3 linked regions of the Homo sapiens genome follow. The protein of the gene in region 3 interacts with the protein of the main gene of each other region in a pairwise test. Each region holds a gene or a part of one and is shown on either strand. Other genes may lie near its edges. The genes, in order: FAM156B, SCG2 and ATRIP.

Region 1 (3,750 bases), on a different chromosome or scaffold from region 3:
CCACTCCATTCAGCGGTGCCTTCGGTGAATTATCCAATGCAGCCCCATCCCAAGGACGTGTCTTAATCTGAGGAATAAAATATTGTCCAAGGAGCCAGGAATGGTGGCTCACGCCTCTAATCCAAGCACTTTGGGAGGCTGAGGTGGGAGGACTGCTTCAGCCCAGGAGTTTGAGGCCAGCCTGAGCAACAGGGCGAGACCACCATCTCAACAAAAAACTTAAAAAATTAGCCAGGCATGATGCTGCACAGCTATGGTCCCAGCTACTGGGGAGGCTGAGGTGGGACGATCACTTGAACTCAGGAGGTTGAGGCCAGTGCAGTCCAACCTGGGTGACAGGGTGAGTCCATCTGAAATCACAAAACAAAACAAAAAGACAACTATGGCAGGCATGAGACGGGGGTACTTCTGACACAGAGGAAGTCAAAATCACCATAGCCCAGGTGGTCAGGAACAGCTTCTCCCAGGGCATGCTATGATATATATTCTCATCCCCAGTTGCAGATGAGGTAACAGGATCAGAGAGGTTAAGCAACTCACTCAAGGTCACACATCTAGGGAGTGGTGGTGACCATTTCTCACTGAGGTCTGCTGAAATACAAAAGTCACTCCACCATTTGTGACACCAATCTCTCTTTATATTGTCACCCGTTTTAATTCGCATTCATAGACGTATACTTACCTGTGGCTCTCCTTAGTTTCATATTCTCATAAGCGGCTACACACGGTATAGATTTCGTCTTAGCACATCAGGCCTTTCCCTTAAAGAACCTGAATTTCCCGTGCCCGGCACGACTGCCCAGCCCAGAACTGAACACTTATCTCAAATTAATCTTCCAACCACACACCAAGGAAAGAAAATGGATTACTGCCACGTAGAGATTTAATTTGGGTATTTCACGAATTCTGAACTACGATTTGAAATGTAACCACTGTCCAACCAGAAACAGTAAAAACAAAGTGCTTCCCTATGAAAAGTATTCACAGGACATTTTATTAAATGCCAAAGCATTCCAGGTAAGACACACTGCCCGTTTTATAGGAAGTTGTTGAGATTCTGCTCCTAAGAATACAGTAGTCCTTTCTCTCTCCACTGCTAGTGCCCTGATAAGCTCAGCCAACCAAGGCCATTCGCTTTTCCATTTGCAAGCAAACACACCAAACTACCCTCACACCCACGCACAAATCCAACGCACCCAACGGGTCAGTGAGTAGAGGGAAATGGTATTGGAGATGCAGATGGGAATCTGTGGCTACTCAGAGCACCACATTTCTGATGGCGGAGAGGGCTACCGCCCAGGGTCGCCTGTACTCCAGCAAGGTGGACGGCGGAGAGGCCCTCCCTCTCTAAACATGAGACCCTGCAGCTTGTGCGGCTACTGGACACAAATGGCCTGGACCATTCATTGCGCACGAATGCAGCAATCACACCGCCCATTAAACGCATGTCTAGTCGTATTTCACATTACGACCGTCCCTCTGTCACACGTCGGAGAAAGGGTTTGTCGGACGGTTTGTTTCAATAGGGGCAATGCAGTCCTCCTTGAAAACCCTCCAGTCACTGTCTCCTGCTGTGCGATGGGAGAGGAGGTGGGGAGGGAGGTGATGCCAAGGACACGGTGATTTCTGAACCCGCTGAACACTGATCCTAGCCCAAGTGTAGTCCCGCCGGCTACCAATGCCCGCGGCATCCTCTTTCTCCGCTGAAAAAGGCCACCCCCAAGTAGGGAACGAGAACAACGCCACCCCCAGAGTGCACGACCGCCATTCCCACACCGGGGAGATATGGACGACGTGGAAAATCACCCGCTTCCTTCGAAAGCCCCACTCCCGGCCAGCCCAACCCAGGGATTCGAGTCCCAAGACACCCTGGCCTGTGCTAGGGACAGCCTCCGTCTCGGCCTCTCGCTCTGTCTCTCTGGAAGTCTCTCTCCCACCCCCCCGCTCTCAGTCTCTCCCGCGCGCTCGCTCGCTCTCCGTCTCTCTCGGGCTCTCTCACGCGCGTTCTCGCTCCGGAGCCGGTTCCCGCCGTCCAAGCGCCAACGCGGCGCCTCGTTTCCTCTGCCCTGGAAACGCAGCGCCGCCCGCTCGTAATTGAAGGGTTAAGACCATCGAGAGGAGCCGCCCTCCGGCGGGCTAGAGGCGCCGCAGCGCGGAAGGGGGCGCCGGCGAGGATGTGCTCACGTCACAGGGATGCGACGCCGCTGAGAAACTGAACCTTTGATTGGCTGCCGCGGACCGCCGGAGCCGGAAGACGGAGCGGTTGGGTGGCTTCTCGCGACCCACGCCGCTCGGGTGGACTGCGAGGGGAGAAGGCGTGGAGGTCATCCCTTCCGGAGGTGCGCCGCGGCGTTCCCGGAGCGGCTTCTCTGAAGCGTGGCTTGTGGACTGCCGAATGCTTCCGGAGGCCATGGGAAGACACTCCCTGTAGCGGACGTGACTTCCCGGGCGAGGGACGTGGGAACTGGGCTGGAGGGTTGGGAGGCGGCCGACTTCTCCTGTGATTGGCTGGAGTTTTGAGCTAGGGCGCGCCGCTGAGAACCGACACGTGCTGTTTCATTTTTTTTTTTTTTTTTTTTTTTTTTTTTACTGTTTTTGCATGAATGATAAATGCACCTTGGTAAAGACAGAAACCAAACAATCCAATACATTGAAATTATTCAGGCTACTGCCTTAGGGAGAGCGCCCCAGAAGTGGAAATCACACTGTTGGGGTAACCGGGGCGGGGCGGGGGTGTCTTTTACTTTCATAGGAAGGAGTACACCGGTTTCAGTGGGGAGATTTATGGGGCAGGGTTTTTTGTTTTTTTTTTAATCAGCGGAAGTCTCAGCCAGCTGAACAGGGAATGTTTCTCTCTGTGCCTAGCTACTTTTAGGAGGACAGACTTCCCGTCTAAGTGAATCATTTGTGATACCCTACCTTGTTTTAACCTGAGTGACTCTTTCCTAGCAGAGAGAGCCGGACAGACTCCATTTTAGTTTCTTCACTTGCAGCCCCCTTTATCCCCCTTAAGGGAATAACTAGTGCAAGCTGAGTCCAAGCACATCCAAGAATACACCTGCTGGTAAGATATTGAGGCAGGCTGTACCAACAGCTCGGGAATGTGCTCGGTGGAAGGTACCTAAAAGCCCCTGCATTTATCTCTTAATCATAGTTTAAGCCCCTGCACCTGGAACTGTTTATTTTTTGTAACTGCTTCTATAACCAATTAATTTTTTTTAACTTTTTGCCTATTCTGCTTCTGTAAAATTGCTTCAGCTAAACTCCCCCCTCCCCTGTTTAGACCACGGTATAAAAACAAAACTAGCCCCTTCCTTGGGGCCGAGAGAATTTTGAGCGTTAGCTGCCTGTAGGTCGCCAGCTAATAAAGGTCCCCTTAATTTGTCTCAAAAGTGTGGCGTTTCTCTATAACTCGCTTGGTTACAACACATTCATGAGACAAAAGAACAAGGACTGGTGGTGTCTGCCATCTGGGAGTCACGGCACAGAGTGGGAAGACAGCATCCCTTATCTAAGTCTCATGGAGAATAATTGGTCCTGTGTGGTCAGTGACTTCCCAGAACACGAAAGTGTACAGAGATTTCTTTACCGTGGCGTATTTCAGGAGTCAAGTGACACGCAACAATGTCTGTCCTAGCAGATACATGGATAGTAGATTCCTTTTTAACCCTGGAAGAAGCCGCCTCGTGAACAGCAGTTTATGAAGGAAGGAAACATGAACCATTCTCCCAGAATATTATCATTTCATTT
Region 2 (3,072 bases), on a different chromosome or scaffold from region 3:
ATGTTGTGTTGATTCTCTGTTGATGTGTTAGGTGGCTGACATTGCACTAAAGTGATGTGCGCTGTAATAACCATGCACTTCTTTGCCCACTAGGGCAGAAGATGGGGCTGGTTGTTCCCACTGCTACTGTGCTTCTTCACTTACCTAATGGTCAGTTTGGGGGTCCTTTGGCCCCTCTCAAGTCACATAAGGGAGGCAACAGCCTTGTCTTTTGGGGACCAACATGACCTGGGAATAGACAAGTTCCTTTCAAGTCTGTAGTCATTTTTGATTGCCATCTATGCAGCCTTTTCTTTTTCTTTCTGTTTTTGTTTTGATGGCTGCCTATGGGTATTGGAGACTTAAATTTCTTTTACTTATATAAATCAAGAGTAAAAAATACCTAAAACAAAGACTCTATCGATTATATATTTGAGGAAAACCATGGGCAAGCATAAGGAAAACCATGGGCAAGCATAAGGATGCAGCATTCTGCAAGCAGGTACCATGAACACATGTATAAAATTCATTACTTCTTACCTGAATTGTCTGGTGAAGATGATTTTCTCTTTTGGCTTCATACTGCTTGCTTCGTAGACATTGTCTCTGGTTTTCCATAATTAAGAGTCCAAAGTTGTCCAGAAATAACATTTATTAATCAACAGTAAAACACACAATAGAAAAGGCCTTATAAATAAAACTATATATTTATAATGCTTTATTTTTTTGGTCCAGTACTCCACAAAACACTACAGACAGTAACAAAATAATTCAATAAATATTAAAAACTTTCAATAGAATTATAGGACACTTTTTTATCATATGTGAGCATCAACAATGCCACAGCCATTAGATATACTATTAAACACAGTCATAGATATCTTTCTTGAATAATGGACATAATAAATTTTTTATCAAGGAGTCATAACATTTACACATATCCATACACAAGATAACAGCTCAGAGGAAATGAAGCAGACTCCCCAGTGACCTGGTTTCATCTGCCTGTACATCATTTAAAGATATTACAGTGTTAACAGGATAGAAGTCAACACACTGAAGAGAAATGTTGGGATTTGCTTGGGGTGGGAGGAATGAAAGTAGGGTAATTAATGAAAGCAGCTTACATATTTTCCATTGCTCTCTTAGCAATATGCTCCCTTCCCTTTTCTGCCTTTTCTTGGTTGAGGTATTCCAGCACTTTCATTAACAGATCTTCATCCCAGTACTGCCTATTTGGGGTATCATCATTCTTCGGGGGCCCCACAGGGAACCTTTTGCTCACCGGGGCCAGCTTGTCAGTCTCCTGAGAGCTGCCTTGATTCAAATGCTCTTTGATGGCCTGCTCAATTTGTTCCTCTTCCTGCAGGTCATCTTCAGATGAGCCTTGACCAGGAACTCGCTTCACTTGGTTTGAATTAATGATCTCAGGGTATTTAACTAGCATCCTGGCCAAGTACTCACCTAATTCTTGATCCTTGTCGTTCAGGTTTTCATATGCCATCTGTCTGTTTTCAACATGTGGAATCCAGGCAGCTTTGGGAAGCTGGTTCGATCTAGATCTTCCAGCACCATAAGGGAGCCTTGGCAGAACTTTCTCCTGGTTATATGGATTGGGAAAATACGACGTTTTCTGATTTGCTGCACTCTCCATCCCTAAAAGATTTAAAATATCCTCAACACTGAGCCCGTCTGGTAGGGCCTCAGTCCCAGCACGACCAGGTGTTTTAGGGTAGCCACTCTTGGAGAGCATCCTATTTTGGAACAGGTCTGGATGGTCTAAGTCAGCCTCTGAGATGTCATCTAGGTCAACAGGAAGGTCAAGCTCCCGCTCCGGTTCCACTGATCCATTCGGCTTCTCCCCAGTTTTGAGCATCTCAATTAAGTCTTCTGGGGGTATCTGTAAATTCCTTGAGATTTCAATCAGCTGATAAATAGACTGAGAATCAAGAGGTTTCTCAAAAAGCCTGGTGGCCCTTTCCCCATTTTGCCCATTCTGTAACCTCCCACTTCCTGCAGCATTTACTAACCTTTTCAAATAGGCAATTACTTTGGAGACATCATCTGAGAGTTGGTCTTTACTCTCTTTCCGAAGATCTTCTTCCTGGATGCCAAGCTGCCCTGAGCGTTTCATCTCATCGTTGATTTGTTCATTTTTTTCTATATTCTCTTTGCTGTCTCTCACCTCTTCCTGGGTTTGACTCTCTATTTTCTCCTCTACTGGGTTCCAGTCTTCTCCCCCGACCACATCTTCATAGGCAATGTTATTAGCCTTGTAGATATCATCTTCATCATCCGTATAAAGTTTTTGCTCCTCATCCATCCTCTCACGTTTCTGGTTGTTTGGTCCTGTCAGTTTCCCCAGCTCTTGGAAGACAGATTCCAATGTAGCAAGGCTTTGAGGAGTATATTGTTCCTCCACTATTTCATTTGTGCGTTTAAAGGGGTTATCCCTGGAATTCTCTTCATACATAGGAGGGAATTGCATGTGCTTAAGCTTTCTTTCTGGCCACTGCTGTGTCTCATAATCATCACTCATGTCCATTGGAAAGTTCTTTTCTGAATTCAAGGCATAGGGCTTATTTTCTTTTGGTGCAGACTGAGGCTCATTTTCAGCCTGTCTCAAAGCTTCGAGTATTATTCTCATCCAGTCTTCTTCACTCAGTGAATCCCTCTCGGGCAAGTGGCTTTCATCGCCATTTTCTTTTTGCTGAAGGGGGACAGAGACACCTTGGTAGGGATTATAATCTGGGCTGCTTTCTTCCTTATGAGCTTGTTGTCGGAGGTTTTCTATGTACTCCAAAGCCCTGATCATTTCAGGACTGGGAAACTTTTGGACATTTTCCAACCTGAGGTCTGGTTCTTTCTGAAGCAGCTGGTTTCTCTGAAATGAAGCTGCTTCAGCCCCAGAGATGAGGAAAATTAAAGGGATAAGAGACAGGGCTGCTCCAAGCCAGTGGGTCTTTGCTTCAGCCATGTTTGAAAGATTTCCTTAAAACATAAAAAATATGAGTTACACAAATGAAACAAACTAGAAGACACTATAGCAAAAGAAATAATTGATCATTGAGGTGAGGAAAAAACATAGTAGAT
Region 3 (3,750 bases):
GGTCCTAGCAGAGGCTGTGACCCCATACATGGGCCTGATGGTGCCGAAAGGCCTGGCGTGAGCATCCACCCACCGCAGCAGGGCCTGTGGTCTCCACTGACAGATGCTGAGCAGGGCCAGGACATCACCCTCAGCCGTGTGCGAGTCTGGAGGGGACTGCCCATACAGGCGAGTGTAGATGCTGCCTAGGCTATAGCTCTTCCTTGGGCCGTGTTCTGAGGGGCTGCTTGCTCGCTCCAGGGCCTTCAGCGCAGTGATGCTATCCACACAGAAGGCACCATCCAGAGCACTGGTGAGGCCCAGCATAGCCAGCTCTGCTTGGAGCAGGGGGAAGTCGTAGCGGTCACCATTGTGTGCCACCAGGCACCAGGGCTGTGGCTGGCGCCGCAGGAAGGCTAGGAGCAGGTTGGCCAGGTTGTCATCAAAACATTGACGCCCATGCGCTGCCAGCACAGCTGTGCTCAGACCTGTGATCTCGCTGGCTGCAGGGCTGCAGGCCTTCCCCGGAGCCACACACAGGGAGAGCTTGTCTACCACACGCGGTGGTGGAGGAACTGTGGGAGGTGGCCCCTGAGAGGTGGGGGGGCTCTCCAGGGCACATCTGTGGACAGCCAGCAGGCACAGCTCCGTGACCTTGGGCTGGGAGAAGGGCAAGCCAGTGGCCTCCATGTCGAAAAAGATGAGGGTCTGCATGGGCCCCGGGGGCAGGGCCTGCGAGCCCATGGTTGGGTACGTACCTGCTGCTGAGCCTGGAGAGGAGCATGGGGTGGGTGTGTGAGTGCCCAGTGTTAAGATCCGAAGGGGAGGGAGTGGGGTAGGGGGTGGGCAGAAGCACATCTCAGGCCTTCCCTGCACAATCCTGCCCTGTCTGCGAGCTCCAGGGCCCATTTTCAGGCAGGAAGTTGGAGAGGGTGAGGTGGTTTCCTTAGTGGGACCAGCACATTCGACTGTCTGAGAGGGTCTCCCTCTTCACATGACTCGGCCCCTCCCCTAGTGCCCCCTTAGTCTGGGGTGGGGGAACCCATGGCCCTCCTGCCCTGCGCCATCCCATTGTGGGGGCCACACTCACCGTAGCAGGCAGGCAGGCAGGCAGTAGTGACTCGGCTGCACACTCTCCCGCGGCTCTCGCTGGCAGCAGTGGCGGGAAGTGAAACTTGGCGTGGGCCCGCCTACAGGCCCACGTGAGCCAGGCCCGCCCTGCTCGTCAGCCTGCCTGGTCTGTCCCTCTCACCACCATCCGTTCCCCCCCACACCCACTCCCCTGCTCCCGGGGGACCCCAGAGGCCTTCCAAGATCCACAGCTGTGGCCTGCTGGTGGCACAATGCACCGGGGCCATCATACCAGTGACAGGCAGCTGGAAGGACCAGGGCAGTGGTGCCAGACCAGCTCCCGGTCTTACACACTGCTGGGAGCCCCTGCTGCGGCCCTTTCATGCCCACCTGTGGGTCCCAGTTTCCCAGGCTTTCCTGGTTTAGGCCTGGGCCAAGAGCCACCTCCTTCCCTGCCACACAATGGTTTCTTCCCATGGCCCCAGCCCAAAGCAATGACTCAGGACAATTCCACAGGCAGGGCAGGGCTCCTTCCTCAAGGCAGATCAGTTACCATGGGGACGGGCTCAGCAACAGCCAGGGACAGGAAGAAGGATCCCAGCCACTCAGGGTCCGGGTCCTGCTCCACCCCTCCCACTCCGCCAAACAGATCAGACTCAGGAAACAAGGCCAGCCAGTTCTCTGGGCAGTTCCTGCTGGTCACTGCTTTAATCAGTTGATGTGGTAAGGAAAGGAGTGGTGCTGGTGCCACCATGTGGCTGGACACTCAGGGCCTCAGCCACACTCCACCTCGGGGTCTTCCACATCGGTTTCCGCGGCACAGAGGTCATCCAGGGCTGCCTCTGAGACAAAAAGGAGAGGTTCCTGGTGAGGGCCCAAAGGTGCCAGGGCCTAGGGCAGGTCCCACCTCTCCTCCCCCAACGTCCGCAGGAACTAACCAGTCCCTTCCACACCCAGGCCCTGCTCCCTCAGCTACTGCAAACAAAGTGATACAAAGGCAATTCAGACACGGCTATTTCTGGAAAAACCGTGGCTCTGCCAGGCACACTCAACAGATAGATGCAAAAGGCATCCCAATATGCTTGGAGAAGAACTGAGGCAGGAAGATAAAAGAAAATGGCCCCAGTGCTGGAACAGGCTGCAGTGGGCGGGGGCCTGCTGAGGGGACACCCAGGAATCTGACTTGTTGGGGAACCTCTGGAAGAAGCCATGGGGGCTGGGCAGGATGGCCTCTGGCAGGCTTACCTTCACAGTCCGTCACATCAGGAAGCCCTCGGATGAGCATGCTGACCCCCGGCATCACCTGGTCAAACTGATGCAGGACCTCCACGCAGTGCATCATGAAGAGCTTGTCCTTCTGCGATAGGCCGTGCAGCAGCAGCACCGTGTCCCGCAGACAGCGCACTGTCCGCCTCTGCTGGTCGGTCCTTGGGGGTCCCCCTGCCCTCCGCACTGTCAGCCACTGTCTGTGCAACATCACCGTGAGCGCTCTGACCACCTGAGAGAGGGGGGGTGCAGACTGAGGCCTGGTGCCACCATGGCCTGCACCCTAACAATCCGCTCAGCCTAGCCACCTCACGTGAGGGGGTTTGCAGTGGGGCCTACAGTCCTTGCACGGGGCCCCCTTACCACCAGAGCTGCCAGCTGTTGGCCCCTACCCACTCACCTCCACATTACACTGGCAGTTGGAGCCAGTGACTGGGGGCAAGGGGCTCTGCACACCAAGCTTAGCCAGGAGCCACACCACCTAGAACAAGAACAGATTGGTTCCATCCTGGGCAGAAGGAGACCAGTCCCTGCGAGGGTTTTCTTAAGCTTCTATAAGAGTTCACTTGCTTCAGCAACTGTTTGTCTGCACAAATGGGGTCCAAGAAGTGGTGTGGGACCTTCCCAGGGAAGACCCAGGACAAGCACTCATGTGTCACCAGCAACCCACCTGCCTCCAGCCCCCTATTCTGCCCCCACGTCCCAAAGCCAAGACAGGATCAGTCATCAGGCAACTCTGCCAAGTCCTGTCTGCATTGCATCTGTGTGGTGCACAGCCCCCAAACTGAGTTTACCTCTTTAGTTGCTTTATCAACTCTTGTTACTAAAATGAATTAAAGCTCCGTTTCTCCTCAGCGGAAAGAAAGGAGATTCTGTTGGTTCTTAGGATGGGGTGGGGACAGTGTCCAGAAGGGGCTCTGGAGTTTTTACCTCTTGTTCCAGCTGGAGCCATTGTGTCTCCAAGGCCACTCTGTCAGGCCGTGATGTGATGTACATGTACAGCAGCAGCAGGAGGCAGCCTTCTGAAAAGGACAGCGCACCTCTCACTCAGGGTGCCCTTTCTCATAAAGAGCGTGGGCTACATACTGCAGAAGCCCTCTGAGGCCCTTGACCCTGTTCCCACCCCAACCCTTCCCTTGATCTGCAGGAGCAGTCTAGACGCCCGCCCCACCCTGCTTTACCTGAGTGGGAACAGAGCTGAGGTGCCAGCTGGTCGTGGTCCGCCAGCAGGGAGAGGAGCTCAACAGCCAGCAGCACGCTAGGCAGGGGTGTCTCTGGGCTGAGGCACTTTGGCAGCACTTGGAACACACACTGGAACCTAAAAGACAGGGACCCAGAGAGACGTGACACTCCCCAACCCCAGCTCCATAACCTACCTTCACACTCCACTAGAGGTAACAGAAAATTGAGCAAGTCAGTATGAACAGGTGAGTT

What was found.
Region 1: the proteins of ATRIP (region 3) and FAM156B interact in binary tests that used the Homo sapiens proteins (3 or more experiments, as listed by UniProt).
Region 2: the proteins of ATRIP (region 3) and SCG2 interact in binary tests that used the Homo sapiens proteins (3 or more experiments, as listed by UniProt).

Annotation. Positions count from the first base shown.
Region 1 is NC_000023.11:52,895,659-52,899,408, reverse strand, and holds the start of FAM156B (protein FAM156A/FAM156B), read right to left. Parts: upstream 2,080-3,750; 5' UTR 1-2,079.
Region 2 is NC_000002.12:223,596,327-223,599,398, forward strand, and holds the end of SCG2 (secretogranin-2 precursor), read right to left. Parts: intron 2,971-3,072; 5' UTR 2,957-2,970; coding exon 1,103-2,956; 3' UTR 614-1,102; downstream 1-613. UniProt on the Homo sapiens protein: Neuroendocrine protein of the granin family that regulates the biogenesis of secretory granules.
Region 3 is NC_000003.12:48,463,629-48,467,378, reverse strand, and holds part of ATRIP (ATR-interacting protein), read right to left. Parts: intron 3,635-3,750; coding exon 3,498-3,634; intron 3,339-3,497; coding exon 3,247-3,338; intron 2,798-3,246; coding exon 2,717-2,797; intron 2,549-2,716; coding exon 2,296-2,548; intron 1,893-2,295; coding exon 1,825-1,892; 3' UTR 724-1,824; coding exon of another isoform or gene 1-723. Other genes in the region: TREX1 (three-prime repair exonuclease 1), read right to left, coding at 1-723. UniProt on the Homo sapiens protein: Required for checkpoint signaling after DNA damage. Required for ATR expression, possibly by stabilizing the protein.